Regions from separate parts of the Homo sapiens genome. Here region 2 is linked to region 1. Evidence: fine-mapped expression QTL. A gene starts in region 1. The other region holds a variant in brackets. All regions are shown on one strand. Distances are between the middles of the regions. Region 1 holds the start of SLC25A45 (solute carrier family 25 member 45). Region 2 has its middle 26 kb from the start of POLA2.

What was found.
Region 2: its variant is fine-mapped to the expression of SLC25A45 in whole blood (TOPMed, PIP 0.94).

What each region holds. Positions count from the first base shown.
Region 1 is chr11:65,377,378-65,385,698 of GRCh38, forward strand. It overlaps SLC25A45 (solute carrier family 25 member 45), which reads right to left and starts at 5,269. Exons shown (of 7, transcript NM_182556.4): 1 at 5,109-5,269; 2 at 4,538-4,592; 3 at 2,755-2,798; 4 at 2,490-2,561; 5 at 1,999-2,184. The coding sequence starts at 4,574. It also overlaps a transcript of FRMD8 not described here. RefSeq lists enhancers at 4,378-4,906, 4,455-4,584, 4,572-5,771, 4,715-4,994, 4,907-5,434 and 4 more and a silencer at 6,401-6,695.
Region 2 is chr11:65,231,635-65,239,955 of GRCh38, forward strand. It overlaps the pseudogene SLC22A20P. Among named protein-coding and RNA genes, the nearest start is that of POLA2, 26 kb to the right of the region's middle. The variant C/A (reference allele first, on the strand shown) is at 5,211.

The DNA.
Region 1 (8,321 bases):
GGAGCAGGTTGGTTTCTGGCCTCCCTAAAGCCGGCAGTGAGCATACCTGTACGGTGGGCAGGGCCAAGTGAAGGATTCAGCCTGTGACTGTGAAATAGCAAAGAAACCACCCTTTCCCAGGGTGAAGGAGGTCCCCTCGTGAGTGCTGTTCTCCTGCGCCCACCTCTCAGAGGCCCGGAGGGGCACAAGGCCAGCCCCTCCTGCCTCCAGAGAGGCAAGACTCCTTCCCATTAGCATCCCACCAAAGAGGCTTCTGAGTGTGGGAAGGTGGGTAATGGGGGGACTTGGCAGGTGCTAGGGCTCTTAGAATCGGCAGAAGCAGATGCTACACAGATTTGGGATGGAATTGGGGCTGGAGTCCTGGTGAGGGTCAGTGCTGGGGGGATGTAGAGGGCGATGGGGGCAATTAAGATTTGGGTCAGAGATGCCAGTAGGTCAAGATAGCTTTTGGAGTCCAGGTGAGAATCGGGGTCCATGTCAAGGCTAGCCTGTCTCTGAGGGATTTATCTGTTTTTTGCTTGTTTGTTTTGTGACAGGTACATGGGCTCAGTTCCTCAGCCCTGGAGATGGCTGATGGCGACGGGGGCTGGCGGTCGCCTCTGGTGGTGGGTGGTGGTACTTAGGGTGTGGCAGGCCAAGTCTTCGCTTGTTTACTTTGGTCCCAGGAGTAAGGGTCGTAGGTTAGGTACCATCCCTTGGGAGATGGGGCCTTGTGCCACCCTCTAGAGCGTGCTGGCAGGGCTGAGCTCAGGGCTTCAGGAGGTGTTCTGAGCCCTGAGCTCCTGGGGGCTGAGGACAGGGCTAGGCTGACACCAGGTGACAGACACCCCCACAGGGGTGGTGGAGTGTCAGATGCCATTTCAGAAGGTCAGCTTCGGCGAAGACCAGGGCAACGTCTGTGCCCGTCAGAGGCTGTCAGTCCCTGCCTCTTCTTCCCACTCCACACTAAAACACATTTTTCCTTTAAGACTCTGTTAAACTAAAGCCACAGGTTTCACTGTAAACCCAGGCTCCATCAGCGGCCCTCACAGTCCCCACTTCTGCTTTCCAAAGAGCTGGGGGGGCAGGGTGACTTAGAAGCCGGGCCTGGCCACTTAGCTTAGGGCTTCGGTTCTCTTCCTTGTGTTTGTGGGATGTGGCTCGCGGGGCTCAGGAAACCTATAGGTGGCACCTCGCACAAGAAGGGGCAGAAGAAAAGCCGGGGCCTCCGGGGGTCTCATTAATCATTAATTCATTTGAAGGAGCAGCCTGACTTTGTCCTTTGTCCTTGCTCTCTGCCCCATGAAGTGTGACAAGGAACTGGGGGCAGCTGCCCAGGAGAGGGCGACCCTGGCTTGCGGCTGGGGTGTCAGTGGGTGCCGGGCGCACCCTCTCCCTGCTTATGCTCACAGGACCCATTCAGCACCGGTTCCCACTGGCGGCAGCTGGTCCCTCTTCCCTCCATCCACCCCTCTAAAGCCCAAAGCCCAGATGACGGCAGTGCCTGAATGGTTAATGCCCTGCTGGGCTGGGCCTCAGGTGAGGCTCCCAGGTCATGGGCACCCAAGCACTGCAGGCAAAGTGTAGAGCCAGGCAGGGCCAGGGGAGTGTCAGGACCTCATCAGGACCCGGCCAGAGGGGCTGGGCTCACAGCTCTGCGGGGTGCTGGTGGTTCTCCAGGGTCAAAGGTCTCCTTGGGGAGTGGGCTCCCCACAGCTCTGAGGCTGGCAGACCCCTCTGGAGGGGGGCAAGCCCCGTCAGCTGGAGCGAGTGGCCCAGGCTGCTTCTCCCAGCACCCTCTTGGCACTGCCCACCAGCTGTCTCTGCCTTTTGCCCCCTCTGTTCCCCACAGCCCTCCCCCAGAGGCCTGCAGCCTGGAAGGCCATAGCACAGGCCTCTTGTTCCCCTCCAAGAGGCCTATGCCTCCACAGCTGTGGGTCGCCAGGGCAGGGTGGGAGAGGACAGATCGAGATGACCATCCCTATGACACCTGTGTGTGCCCACTCACTGCCCCCTCACCTGCAGGAACCCCCCGGTGCAGCCCGCTAGGAAGATGTGCATGTAGCTGGGCGGCTGGGCCCGCCGCTCCTGGTGGGAGGTGGCCGTGAGCACCAGCAGGGTGTTGCTATAGACCCCAAACAGGACAGAGTTGACCACAGCTATGCTGGCAATGGGGAAGCTCATTCCCTTGAAGAAGCCCAGGAGCTGCAGAGAGACACAGTGGCAGCGGAGTAGGCACCGTGGGGCCTCCCCTTTGTCCTCTCCACCCCTGGCAAGGCAGCCTCTGGCTGGAAACTGCTCCCAAGTCCTGCCACAGGGAAGTGGGGACAGGCAGGGATGGGCTGAGGCTGCGCCTCTGGGGTGCTAAGCTACCACCCAGGCCCCCCAAGGATCCCAGACTTGGTCTTCTCTCCTCCAGGAGCAGAACCCTGCTGGAGAGGGAAGCTGGTACCAACAGCCCCAGATGCCTCCCCGAAAGGGGAAGGACCCCAAAGGAGTGGGCCACTCACGGACTCATGGCGGTAAATCTTGACCATGCAATCAACGATGCCCCGGTAGGTGGTCTGGGTCTGCAGCCTCACCTGGGTGGGAGGACAGAGCAGGTAGGGTGGCGGGATGGGCAGGTGGGCCAACCTTTCCCTCTGCCCCCTCAAGCGGGATGCCAACCAGCAGGAGAGGCAGGAAAGGCAAGATTAGCCAGGCCTGATCTCAGGGCACCCTGACATTTGGGTCAGGTGAGATCTTTCATTCCTCTGGCAGCTCTCCTAAACTCACCTTTACAGTGTCAAACGGGTGTCCCAGGACCAAGCCCAGAGCGCCTGTGGTGACAAGAGGGTGCTATGAGTGAGGGCCCTCGTGCCAGGCCCAGGAAGCAAGTCTGTGCCAAGAGGAAAGAGGGGTTCAGGCAGGAGGAAGGAGAGCAGGGCCATCTCAGACACATGCAGCCACCTTCCTGCCAAGCTCTAGAGACTCCAGCTGCCCCTGCCACCCCCTCCACACAGGCACTGGGCCAGGAAGGCACTGGGACAAGGGACTAAGACCCCAGGCCCCACCTGAGGATGCACACCCAAGAGGGAAGAGCCAGCCAAAGACGTACGTGTCCTCGCTGGAGCCCATACCCGGGTATCCCACCGCCTATGAGCCGCGGGACTCTGGGAGAATCACCCAGGTTCCCACCTCTCCGAGAGCTTTACTCTTCTTTCTTCAACTCATAATGTCGTCGCCGGGATCCAGAGCAGGCCCTGCTGCCAGCTGGCCACGCAGAACTGCAGGGCCCTGATGGGGGTCATGCCTGGGCACCTGCAGAGGAGCTTCTCCCCTCCCCTCCACCTGCCCACTGCCTAGCCCTGCCCTCCACAGCAGAGGCTGGTTCTGGAGTTTGGGGGAGGTCGCACCCCCAGGAGGCAGGTTCAGAACGTCCCTCTCTTTCTCCTAAGAGGAATGCCACCCAGAAGCTGGGCTGGGACCACAGCACAACAGGCCTCAGGGCCCGGGACTGCGGCCCACAGCCAGGTGGGGCAGAGGCCCAGAGGGGACTCAGGACAGCAGGTGAGGTCAAAGGTGAACTTCCTTTGTAAGCCCAACAGGGTGGGCCTGGAGAGCAGGGCTCAAGGTATAGGGTGCTCACCTGGCTCTCCCGCCCTCTGCAGGTGTCAGGCAGAGTGGCCTTGGAAGGCAGAGGCAGCACCCTCCCACCTGTGCCTTCCTCTCTTCTTCCCATCGGCCACTCCCCAGAGGACTGGGGACAGCTGGCTCTGGGGTGCTCCACGGAACCCAGACTTTTTTTTTTTGACACAGGGTCTTGCTGGTGTTGTCCAGGCTGGAGTGCAGTGGCATGATCATGGCTCATTGCAGCTTCAACCTCCTGAGCTTAAGGGCTCCTTCCACCTCAGCCTCTGGAGTAGTTGGGACCACAGGCGTGCGCCACCGCGCCTGGCTAATTTTTGTATTTTTAGTAGAGACGGGGTTTCACCATGTTGGCCAGCCTGGTCTCGAAATCTTGACCTCATGATCCACCTACCTCAGCCTCCCAAAGTGCTGGGCTTACAGGCATGAGCCACCGCGCCCAGCCTCTCATTTCTTATAAAGACAGGGTCTTCCTATGTTGCCCAGGCTGGTCTCAAACTCCTGGCCCCAAGTGATCCTCCTACCTCAGCCTCGCAAAGTGCTGGGATTACAGGTGTGAGCCACCATGCCCTGATTCTTTTTTTTTTTTTTTTTTTTTTTTTGTGGCAGGGTCTCATTCTGTCACCCAGGCTGGAGTGCAGTGGTGCAGTCATAGCTCACTGCAGCCTTGAACTCCTGAGCTCAAGCAATCCTCCTAAGTAGCTGGGACTACAGGTGTGAGCCACCATGCCCAGCTAATTATTTTGATTTTTTTGTAGAGACAGGGGCCTCCCTATGTTGCCCAGACTGGTCTCAAACTCCTGGGCTCAAGTGATCCTCCCGCCAGGCCGGAACTCAGACTTTGGTCTCTGCTCCTCCCATGTCACCCATCTTCCCGAGGAAGTGACCTACCATTGGGTGTGATGTGACAGAAGGAAGAAAAATGTCTCACCAGAGATCCAGCCAGCCACAAATTCCTCCACCGGCATTGTCTGGGCTTGCGGGAACTGGTGGCTCCAGCAGAGGAGACAGAGTTGAATTCCCCCCTCTCCCTCCCCTGGCCCACGCTGATAACCTCCCACTAATGTTTAACCCTGGCGGGAAGGTGAGAATTGGCCTGGTGCCCAGACCTCCGGCAACTGGCAGAGGAGAGCGAGCCAGTTCCGGTGACCCTGGCCACCTGGAGGAGTCGTGCAGAGTACAGTCTCACGGGCCAGGCGTGCCGGGACCACAGAGGCCCTGATCCCCGAGCCCGGCCAATGATCCTCGCTCTGAGGATGGCAACTGGGTTCCTGCCCCATGGTCGGGCCCCTCCAGGGCTGCCTTAGTCAGCAAGAGGCAAGCCCCTGCCTGCCCAGCCAGCCCAGCTCCACTCCCATTCATCTCCACCAAGGGGCATGGCCGCCCCCATGCCACAGAGAGAGGCCGGGTGCGGAGGTAGCGTGGCCACCAGGGGGTAGGCCCAGCCCGCATTTGCCGCTGCGTGGCAGGGTGGGGAGGAGCCACTCCCAGGAGTGACTCACCAGGCCTGGCTGTTCTCTTCAGGGTTGTTTACGACTCCCCCGACTCCCCCGTGTGAGTCAGAAACACAGCCTTCCTCGGCTTCCTCCTTCCCAGGGGAAAGATAGGGGTTTTGATTATTTAAAGTGCGTGTTGATCTGCAATGGCACCATTCTGCTCAGTCAAAACCAAAACCCTTTCAAGGATCTGTGAGCCACAGGGTGCCGCCCATTCTCCTCTGACCTCACGTCCTGCCACCCACCCCCTTGCTTTCTCTGCTGCAGCCACCCGAGCCTCCAGACTCTTCTTCAGTCAGCCTTCTGTCTCCAGGCCTGTGGACTGGCTCTTCCCTCTTCCTGGGCACTCTTGCCCTGGCACCCCTCCAGCTGGGGCTCAAATGTCACCACCTGGGTGAGGTCTGCCCCGCCTCCCCAGCCGGAGGCACTGCTGGCTCTTCCTCTCTTTCTCCATCACAGTTATCACGCCAACATACGATGGGAAGAACTTGTCTGTCTGGACAGGGATCTCTGGGTGTTCTGTGCACAGCGGGTGGCACAGGGTGGGCTCTCAATAAATCCTGAGTGACTGAATGAACGGAAATGTCAGCCAGCAGCATCAGCGGCAGCCTGGGGCTCCAGTTCCCTCTTCCCATCACCAAACGGCCCTGGGAAACATCAAGGCCCAGTGACACCTGCACCCTCCCCTCCAGATCTCCCCGCAGCTCCTAGTCTCCCATGGGGGACGCCCAAGGCCCAGTCCTTCTCTCCCTTCTCCTCTCACTGTGGCCAAGGCAGAACCCACCCACCCCTGCTGCTTTCTCCCGGGTGGACAGATTCGGGAAACAGGACCTCCTACCTCCTGCCTCTGGAGCTGCCTGGGGCTCCTTGGGCCACCCCCAAAGATCATCCTAAAAGACCATCCCCAAAGACTGGCCTCTCGTGGTGGCTTGGGCTGCAGTCCTGGTTCTGCTTCTTATTCCTGAAACTGCCTTTGCAAAAACTATAACTGATACAGGCCAGGCGCAGTGGCTCACGCCTGTAATCCCAGCACTTTGGGAGGCCGAGGCGGAAGGACCACCTGAGGTCAGGAGTTCGAGACCAGCCTGACCAACATAGTGAAACCCCATCTCTACCAAAAATACAAAAATTAGCCGGGTGTGATGACGGGCGCCTGTAGTCCCAGCTACTTGGGATGCTGAGGCAGGAGAATCGCTTGAACCCGAGAGGCAGCTGTTGCAGTGAGCCAAGATCATGCCACTATACTCCAGCCTGGGCAACAGAGCGAGACTCCGTCTCAAAAAAAAAAAACAAACAAACAAACAAAAAAAAAACCCTCCTGTCTCTCGTACAGCCAGCTCTGCATGAATTAAACTCTCCTTATTGCAATTCCCCTGTCTTGACAAATTGGCTCTGTCTAGGCAGAGGGTAAGGTGAACCCAATGGGCGGTTACATTATCTCTCTCAGTGATGTTGAGCAACCTCTTCTGTGGGCCTTGGGGTCTATTATTGTTTGCCAAAGTAGGACAGCAGTCGGGCTAATTGATGTCTAAGCCTCTCAGCTCTAAAGGCTGGAGGCCGCCTCCTCCCTCACTTCAGAATGGGTCTCATTCTCTTTTCCAATCTCACCGCCTCACCCCAGTTTGAGAAAGACCCTCATTCCCACTTCCCTACAGCCTTGCTGAAGGGAAGCCCACCTAAGCATGGCGTCATCTTGTGAATCTCTAGCTCACAACCTCCAAAATGTTCTTACTGTCTAACACGCCTGCCCCATATCTGTCATCCTGGGGTTCAAGGCCTCCCCCATGGTGCCACCCACCTGCTATGCTCTCACACAGCGGGGGTCTTTCCTGGGGTCCTAACCATGCTCGTGCAGTTCCCACTACCTGGAATGCCTTTCCTTCCCCACCATCAGCCTCCCGGACTCTCTCCCAGTGCCCCTCCTTGACTAGACCCGGGTTCTAGCCTCCCCACCACCACCGCAGACACTCCCAGGTGTCAGTCTTTGACATAAAACAGAGATGTGATACTCACCTCTTAGTGAGTTCTAAGGATTAAAGCACTTTAAAAAGTGGCTGGCACGTAAATGGCAACTGCTAATACTTATTTCCACTCTCAGGACGCATGAGAATGACACAGGAAACAGGGGAAAGGGCCTGGCCCAGTGCCCCACACACAGCAAGTGAGCAGAGACTTTTCCTGCCTGTAGCATTTCATAGTTCTTAAGGCAATGCTGTCATCTTCTGTGGTTTTATTTATTTTTTTGGAGACAGAGTCTCACTGTTGTCCAGGCTGGAATACAGTGGCAGGATGGCGCTATCAGAGCTCACTGTGAGCTCACACTCCTGGGCTCCAGCGATCCTCCCACCTCAGGCTCCTGAATGGCTAGGACCACAGATGTGTGCCACCACACCTGGCTAATTTTTGGGTTTTTTACAGATGGCGTCTCACTATGTTCCCCAGGCTGGTCTTGAACTCCTGGCCTCAGGCGATCCTCCTGCCTCGGCCTCCCAAAGTGCTGTGGTTTTAAATGTGCTGTTCTCCTGGGCTTCTTTCTCTTTCCCCTCTTCCTTAACTCACCAATTAAACCACAACAGACACTTTCTGAGGGCAGGGCCACGTCTCCCCTCAGTCTCCATCCCCTGACCTAGCACAAGCCCCGCATCCAGTAAGCATTCAAAACAACACTGAACTCTTCTGCTCCTGCTTCACTCCAGCTGGGTCAAGAGGCCATGGAGATACAGTGTGTCCTGGTCTGAGGGTCCCAGAGCTGAGAACCAGGAAGGAGATGCCTGCCCCCACTGGACACCCTTCCCTGCAGCCCACATCTGAGCTTCCTCAAGTCCTTAAGTCACATTGGCAAGGCAAATGTGATGTCATGGGCTCAGCTGTGGGGCAGTGTGGATCATAGGAGGGCAGGCAGAGCTGGTTCACATACCAAAGAAGGCTGGACTGGGTCAGGAGCTAGAGCTGCTTTCCAATCCCAGGGAACCAGGGCAAAGTGAACCCACTGCCCTCTGTTCCTGATCACCAAGCCCACTGCTGTCACTTGGGACAACTTCTGGTTCCTCTGGCCCCAGAAGGTGCCCCATGGACTTATTTTTCTCCCTGAGTTCCACATCTCAGATGCACACATGTTGCATTACCAGGACATGTCAGTGACATGGCCCTGAGGGTAGGTGGTTTCACACCTGCCTCTTTGGGGCCCCAAGTCTCCTCCCAGCCTGGGAAAACCTCAAG
Region 2 (8,321 bases), 150 kb before region 1:
GCTAATTTTTGCATTTTTAGTAGAGATGGGGTTTCACCATGTTGGTCAGGCTGGTTTTGAACTCCTGACCTCAGGTGATCCACTGGCCTGGCCTCCCAAAGTTCTGGGATTACAGGCATGAGCCACTGCACCTGGCCTCAATTTGGATTTGTCTGATGGTTCTCTCATGACTAAACTGGGATTGTGGATTTGGGAAAGGAGAACCATGGAGGTGATATGACCTTCTCATCATATCATATCATATCATATGAGGGCATATATGATGTCAACATGACTGATTACTGGTGATTTTGAAGTTAATCCCTTGGTTAAGGTAGTGTCTACCAGGTTTCTCCACTGTAAAGTTAATAAATGTTCTCTTTCCATATTCTTGTTTTACTTTTCAATTTTAATCTATTTATTTATTTTGAGACCAGGTTATGAGACTGGCGAATTTTTGTACTTTTGGTAGAAATGGGGTTTCACCATGTTGCCAAGGCTAGTCTTGAACTCCTGGGCTGAAGCAATCCACCCACCTCAGCCTCCCAAAGTGCTGGGATTAAAAGTATGAGCCACCATGAGCAGCCTCTTTCCATATACTATTATTTGAAAGTGAGTCCAGTCCACACTCAAGGGGAGGGAAACTAAGTTTCATCTCCTGAAGGAATGGATTTTTTTGTTTGTTTGTTTGTTTTGTTTTGTTTTGTTTTGTTTGAGATGGAGTCTCCCTCTATTGCCCAGGCTGGAGTGCAGTGGCGCGATCTCGGCTCACTGCAACCTCCGCCTCCCAGGTTCAAGCAATTCTCTGCCTCAGCCTCCTGAGTAGCTGAGATTATAGGCGCCTGGCTAATTTTTGTATTTTTAGTAGAGACGGGGTTTCACCAACTTGGCCAGGCTGGTCTTGAACTCCTGACCTCATGATACACCCGCCTTGGCCTCCCAAAGTGCTTCGATTACAGGCATGAGTCACCGTGCCCAGCCTAGGAGTGGAGTATTTACACACATTGTTTGGAGTTCTTCTTTAAGAAAGACTTATTTATGAAATCATTTATTTATATAGGCTCATGTGTAACCATGTAGTTTATACTTTGGGTTATAATTCAACAACGTTTTTCCTTTATTTAGTAGATACTACATTCTTTACCTTATTTCCCAAATTCCTCCAGCTTTGGCCATTGGGAGCTCTTCCACATTGGCTCCTGTGTCCTTTGACCTTCCTCCATCTTCTTCTCTTTTTATTTTTTAGCACTGCCTTAATTTCGGCGCTGAGGTGGGTACTGCAGAGAAAAGCAAACACTCCAGAACCCATGCACTGGATCCAGGAGTGGGTGGTAGAAAGGGATGTGGAGGGAGGGGTCTGAGCTCTAATACTAAAGACAGAGACTTAGGAGACCGTGAAGGGGTGTTTATGGAAAGTCAGGGAATTTTACCTCCCCGAGGAGAGGAATCCTGTGTCATCCACCTTTGTGTCCCCTCCCCTGGGCTCACAACAGTGAACCATGGGGTGAACAAGGACCATTCCACTGCCTCTCCCAGGTTCTCCAACTCTGTGGCTTACTATGGCCTGGCCATGGACCTGCAGAAGTTTGGGCTCAGCCTATACCTGGTGCAGGCCCTGTTTGGAATCATCAACACCCCGGCCATGCTGGTGGCCACCGCCACCATGATTTACGTGGGCCGCCGTGCCACGGTGGCCTCCTTCCTCATCCTGGCCGGGCTCATGGTGATCGCCAACATGTTTGTGCCAGAAGGTGAGTCACCCACTTCTGCCCTTGCTGCACACCAAGAACTGGGAGCCTCTGGGGTCTGGTAGACAACAAATTTCACATGGCAGCAAGGCTGAAGGGTATGTCTCCGGATCTGAAAAGAAAGCAACTGTTAGGCTGGGCACGGTGGCTCACGCCTGTAATCCCAGCACTTTGGGAGGCCAAGGCGGGCAAATCACCTGAGGTTAGGAGTTCAAGACCAGCCTGGCCAACATGGTGAAACCCCGTCTCTACAGAAAATACAAAAAAATTAGCTGGGCGTGGTGGTGTGCACCTGTAATCCCAGCTACTTGGGAGGCTGAGGCAGAAGAATCACTTGAACCCAGGAGACGGAGGCTGCAGTGAGCCAAGATCGTGCCACTGTACTCCAGCCTGGGAGACAGAGTGAGACTCAAAGAAAAGAAAAAAGAAAAAGAAAGCGACTGTTGATTACTAGAGTTTGTATTAAGCACTTAGTGCCCAGTGGCAATTAGTGGCAGGTGGAGGTCTTGAGCCTTGGCCCTCAGAGCTTCTACTGTGTGGCCAGGGAGGTTAGACAGGTGCACCTAAGCAGCTGGAGAGCACAGGGGCTGGCTCGGTGTGGCCAGCAGTGTGTGCGGCCCCCCGAAGTCTGAGCAGGCAGCATGTCCAAGGGTTGAGAAGTTAGGATTCAAACCTCAGCTGGACTGGCCCTGGAACAGTGGTTTGCAAACCTGGCTAAAATGACCTTCTCCTGGAGCGCTTTGAAAACTCCCAGGGCCCAGGTGCTCCATGCCAGCGCCCTGGGAATCTCAAGGAGTGGAACTCAACCCTCAGTATTTTACAAACTGTCCAGTGAGTCCAGCAAGACGCCAGGGTTGAATAGCAGCGACATAGAGCATGGGCCAAACCATGTGCCCATTGTGACTGCAGCCTTGGCCGTGGGCAGGTTGTCCAACTTCTCTGTGCCTTAGTTCTTCACCTGTAAAATGGATAAATGTTATTATTGGTGTCTTGACCTATTTCATTCCAATCTTTTTTCCTATTTATAGATTTGTATTCAGCATAGTTGAGATATTTTATATGTTTATACATACAAAAATATAAATAGGATACATACATATATATGTATATATGTGCATGTGTACATATATATATATATATATATATATATATATAGTGCCCTTATTTCATTATATGTTGAAACATACACATTCTTTTCCATGTTAGCACAAATGTTTCATGGACCTGATTTTTTTTTTTTTTTTTGAGATGAAGTCTCATTTGTTGCCCAGGCTGGAGTGCTGTGGTGCTCACTGCAACCTCTGCCTCCTAGGTTCAAGTGATTCCCCTGCCTTAGCCTGCAGAGTAGCTGGGATTAGAGATGCGTGCCATCATGCCCGGCTAATTTTTGTATTTTTAGTACAGGCGGGGTTTCATCATTTTGGCCAGGGTGGTCTCAAACTCGTGACCTCAAGTGATCTGCCCACCTCGGCCTCCTAAAGTGCTGGGATTACAGGCATGAGCCACTGTGCCTGGCCTCATGGACCTGATTTTTTATTGCTATGTGATCCTTCCCTCCCTCCCTCCCTCCCTTCCTTCCTCCCTCCCTCCCTTCTTCCTTTCCTCCCTTCTGCCTTTCCTCCCTCCCTCCTTTTCTTTCTTCCTTTCTTTTTCTTTCTTTTCTTTCTTTTTTAAGACAGAGTCTCACTCTGTGGCTCAGGCTGGAGTACAGTGGCACAATCATGGCTCACTGCAGCCTCGACCTCCCAGGCTCAAGCAATCCTCCCACCTTAGCCTCCTGAGTAGCTGGGACTACCGGTGCATTCCACCACACCTGGCTAATTTTTTGTATTTTTTGTGTAGAGACAGGGTTTTGCCATGTTGCCTAGTCTGGTCTCAAACTCCTGGGCTCAAGCGATCTGCCTGCCTTGGTCTCCCAAAGTGCTGGGGTTATAGACGAGAGCCACTGCACCCAGCCTAGATAATATTTCATCTAGATTGATGTTTCTAACTCTGGCCTCACAATAGAATCTCTTGGGGACCTTTAAAAAATACCCAAATTTGAGCCCATCCCCAGTAGGTCTTGCTAGAGTGGACATTGAGTAAGACCCAGGTGTGAGTGTTTTATAAAATCTCCCCACCTGATTCCAATGTGCAGCCAGGGCTGCCACCCAGCCAGAGAAGGCACCATCATTTCCTTGACTGCTGTCCTAACGTTGGATGTTTGAATAGGGGTTTTGCTACTTATAAACAACAGCGGGAGAAGCATATTGAAAATGAGGACAATGGGCCGGGCGCGGTGGCTCATGCCTGTAATCCCAGTACTTTGGGAAGCCAAGGCAGGTGGATCACCTGAGGTCAGGAGTTCGAGACCAGCCTGGACAACATGGTGAAACCCTGTCTCTACTAAAAATACAAAAATTAGCTGGGCGCGGTGGTGCACACCTATAATCCCAGCTACTCAGGAGGCTGAGGCAGGAGAATTGCTTGAACCTAGGAGGCAGAGATTGCAGTGAGCCAAGATTGTGCCACTGCACTCCAGCCTCAGTGACAGAGAGACTCTGTCTCAAAAAAAAAGAAAGAAAGAAAGAAAGAAAATGAAGGCAATGGCAAACATTTAATGGGCACTTTGCACACCTGGCATTGTGTCCAGCTTACGCCAACCCCATGAAGCAGGTGCTGCTATTTTCCTTATTTTACAGATGAGGACAGGGAGGTGCAGAGTGGGTAAGAAACACTGACCTAGGTCAGCCAGCGGGGTGAGAGCTGCAATTTGAACCCAGGCCTGACTCTAAAGCACCTGCCTACCCAGCAGGACTTGGTGACAGATGCAAATAAAGGAGCAAGGAGGGAGAAGTCAGAGAAGGGCAGTCAGGGGACTCCTGGGTCCTAGGAACAGTTGGGAAGGGGAGGTGGTGGAAATCCTGGTTCTCCTCTGGGTTCTGAGTGGGCTCTGCCTCTTCCCCCCACCTCGCCCTATCCCCTCCTGAGGCTCCACCCTTCTCCACTACACCCTGGGCCTCCCTCTCCTCCCCTCCTCCTCAGCTGCACCCTACTCCCCTGTCTAGGCACGCAGATCCTGTGCACAGCCCAGGCAGCGCTGGGCAAAGGCTGCCTGGCCAGCTCCTTCATCTGTGTGTACCTGTTTACCGGCGAGCTGTACCCCACGGAGATCAGGTGGGTGCATGGGGGGAGATGCTGCAGGTTGAGACCTGTTGGGCTCACCGAGGCAGGACCCCTGGTCCCTCCTGCCCTGTCCTCTGACACTCAGGGCGTGGCCCTCTTGGGCCCCTAGGGGTGCAGGTTGCTGCACTGACCCATCCCCATCCACACACCTCCCACAGGCAGATGGGGATGGGCTTTGCCTCTGTCCACGCCCGCCTCGGGGGCCTGACGGCGCCCCTGGTTACCACACTTGGGGAATACAGCACCATCCTGCCACCCGTGAGCTTTGGGGCCACCGCAATCCTGGCTGGGCTGGCCGTCTGCGTCCTGACCGAGACC[C/A]GCAACATGCCCCTGGTGGAGACCATCGCAGCCATGGAGAGGAGGTGAGGGGCCTCCAGCACCAAGAGGCCGAAAGTTACAGGAAATAACTGGGGGGCAAATGGGGTGCCCTCCCCACTCCTGCGTATCGGAAATGTCCTGGCCAGATGCACCAGAGCTGTGAGATGCCTCCCCCACCTCCATCTGCACTGGCTTAGCTTTCCCCAAGAACAGACCCAATCACGAAGGTAGAAAAGAATAAACCGTGAACAAGGAAACACGTGGGTTGGAAGTGAGACGTGGCAGAGAAGTGAGGAGAGGAGAGCGGAGGAAAGTGAAGCAAAGACAGGCTCCCATGGTTGCTGTGCAGGCTTCAAATTTGGTTCTGGGCTTCTTCACAACAGAAAGGGAGACCCCATTCATGGCTGCTCTTGGAAAGGAAAACAAATACCAGTCCCTCAGGAGAGTGAAGCTTTCCTTAGCATTTAGCACTAGGAGAGGTTTCTCTTCACTGCTTGGCCCCCCACCCCTCTTTTCTTTTTTTTTTTAAGATCATCTTGGCTTCAAGTGTGGGTCTCATTAGAAAGGTCACTAAGGTGACAGCAATGTCCTGGACAATGTTTCTAAAACAAACTCAAGAGGGGACTTGATCTGGCTGCTTCTTGCAGCATTTCTCAGCAACAGTGGGCTCAGGGAAGACCCTTAGTTTGCGGGAATGGTGACAGGAACAGTAGCCGCGCCCGTCTGTAACCCTCTCTGAAGGTCAGCTTGATCCCAAAGGTGGACCCATCTGTACCCAGTGGCCTGTATAGGTGCTGTGTTTGCAACCCTGAAATAACTCCCATAAACATTCCATCTCTAACCTGAGCCATGGGCCAAGGCTGAACTGCAAGAGATCAAGGATATATTCTTTGGCAAGTCCTATCATTTCTTTTCTTTCTTTTTTTTTTTTTTTTTTTGAGACATTGTCTCACTCTGTCACCCCGGCTGGAGTGCGGTGGTGCGATCATGACTCACTGCAACCTCCGCCTCCCGGGTTCAAGTGATTCTCCTGCCTCAGCCTCCCGAGTAGCAGGGATTACAGGCGCCCGCCACCATGCCCAGCTAATTTTTGTATTTTTAGTAGAGATGGGGTTTCACCATCTTGGCCAGGCTGGTCTTGAACTCCTGACCTTGTGATCCACCTGCCTCGGCCTCCCAAAGTGCTGGGATTACAGGCGTGAGCCACGGCGCCCAGCCCAAGTCCTATCATTTCTGCCTCCAGAATAGACTTAAATCTGTCATTCTCTCTCCAGCCCTGTGTCCATGGCCCTATATCAAGCCACCATTGTCTCTTGTCTGGACAACTACGAGAGCCTCATATCTTCCCCTGTCCCTGTCCACTTTATTCCCTGCAGGCCAAGTGGGGGAGGACAGTCTTCATCTGGGTGCTGAGCAGGGCTTGGAGAGGATGAGGGTATGGGAGGCGGAGTGTTAAAGTGCATGTATGGGCCAGGTGCAGTGGCTCACACCTGTAATCCCAGCACTTTGGGAGACTGAGGTGGGTGGATCACCTAAGGTCAGGAGTTTGAGACCAGCCTGGCCAACATGGCGAAACCCTGTCTCCATTAAAAATACAAAATTAGGCTCTTGCTACTTCCTTCTTCCCGCTGCCGGGAACACAAGCAAAACGTTGAGGGCTGCAGCAGCCATCTTTGACCATGAAGTAACCTTAAGAAAGGAAGCCATTCTCCCTCTCCCTCTCCCTCTCCCTCCCTCTCCCTCCCTCTCCCTCTCCCTCTCCCTCTCCCTCCCCCTCCCCCTCCCCCTCCCCCTCTGGTCTCCCTCTCTTTCCACAGTCTCCCTCTCATGCGGAGCCGAAGCTGGACTGTACTGCTGCCATCTCGGCTCACTGCAACCTCCCTGCCTGATTCTCCTGCCTCAGCCTGCCGAGTGCCTGCGATTGCAGGCACGCGCTGCCACACCTGACTGGTTTTGGTGGAGACGGGGTTTCGCTGTGTTGGCCGGGCCGGTCTCCAGCCCCTAACCGCGAGTGATCCGCCAGCCTCGGCCTCCCGAGGTGCCGGGATTGCAGACGGAGTCTCGTTCACTCAGTGCTCAATGGTGCCCAGGCTGGAGTGCAGTGGCGTGATCTCGGCTCGCTACAACCTACACCTCCCAGCCGCCTGCCTTGGCCTCCCAAAGTGCCGAGATTGCAGCCTCTGCCTGGCCACCACCCCGTCTGGGAAGTGAGCAGTGTCTCTGCCTGGCCGCCCATCGTCTGGGAAGTGAGGAGCCCCTCTGCCTGGCTGCCTAGTCTGGAAAGTGAGGAGCGTCTCAGCCCGGCCGCCATCCCATCTAGGAAGTGAGGAGCGCCTCTTCCTGGCCGCCATCACATCTAGGAAGTGAGGAGCGTCTCTGCCCAGCCGCCCATCATCTGAGATGTGGGGAGCGCCTCTGCCCCGCCACCCCATCTGGGATGTGAGGAGCGCCTCTGCCCGGCCGCGACCCCGTCTGGGAGGTGAGGAGCGTCTCTGCCCGGCCGCCCCGTCTAAGAAGTGAGGAGACCCTCTGCCTGGCAACCACCCCGTCTGAGAAGTGAGGAGCCCCTCCGCCCGGCAGCTGCCCCGTCTGAGAAGTGAGGAGCCTCTCCGCCCGGCAGCCACCCCATCTGGGAAGTGAGGAGCGTCTCCGCCCGGCAGCCACCCCGTCCGGGAGGGAGGTGGGGGGGGTCAGCCCCCCGCCCGGCCAGCCGCCCCGTCCAGGAGGGAGGTCGGGGGGGGTCAGCCCCCCCTGCCCGGCCAGCCGCCCCGTCCGGGAGGGAGGTGGGGGGGTCAGCCCCCCGCCCGGCCAGCCGCCCCGTCCGGAAGGGAGGTTGGGGGGTCAGCCCCCTGCCCAGCCAGCCGCCCCGTCTGGGAGGTGAGGGGTGCCTCTGCCCGGCCGCCCCGACTGGGAAGTGAGGAGCCCCTCTGCCCGGCCACCACCCCGTCTGGGAGGTGTGCCCAACAGCTCATTGAGAACGGGCCAGGATGACAATGGCGGCTTTGTGGAATAGAAAGGCGGGAAAGGTGGGGAAAAGATTGAGAAATCGGATGGTTGCCGTGTCTGTGTAGAAAGAAGTAGACATGGGAGACTTTTCATTTTGTTCTGCAC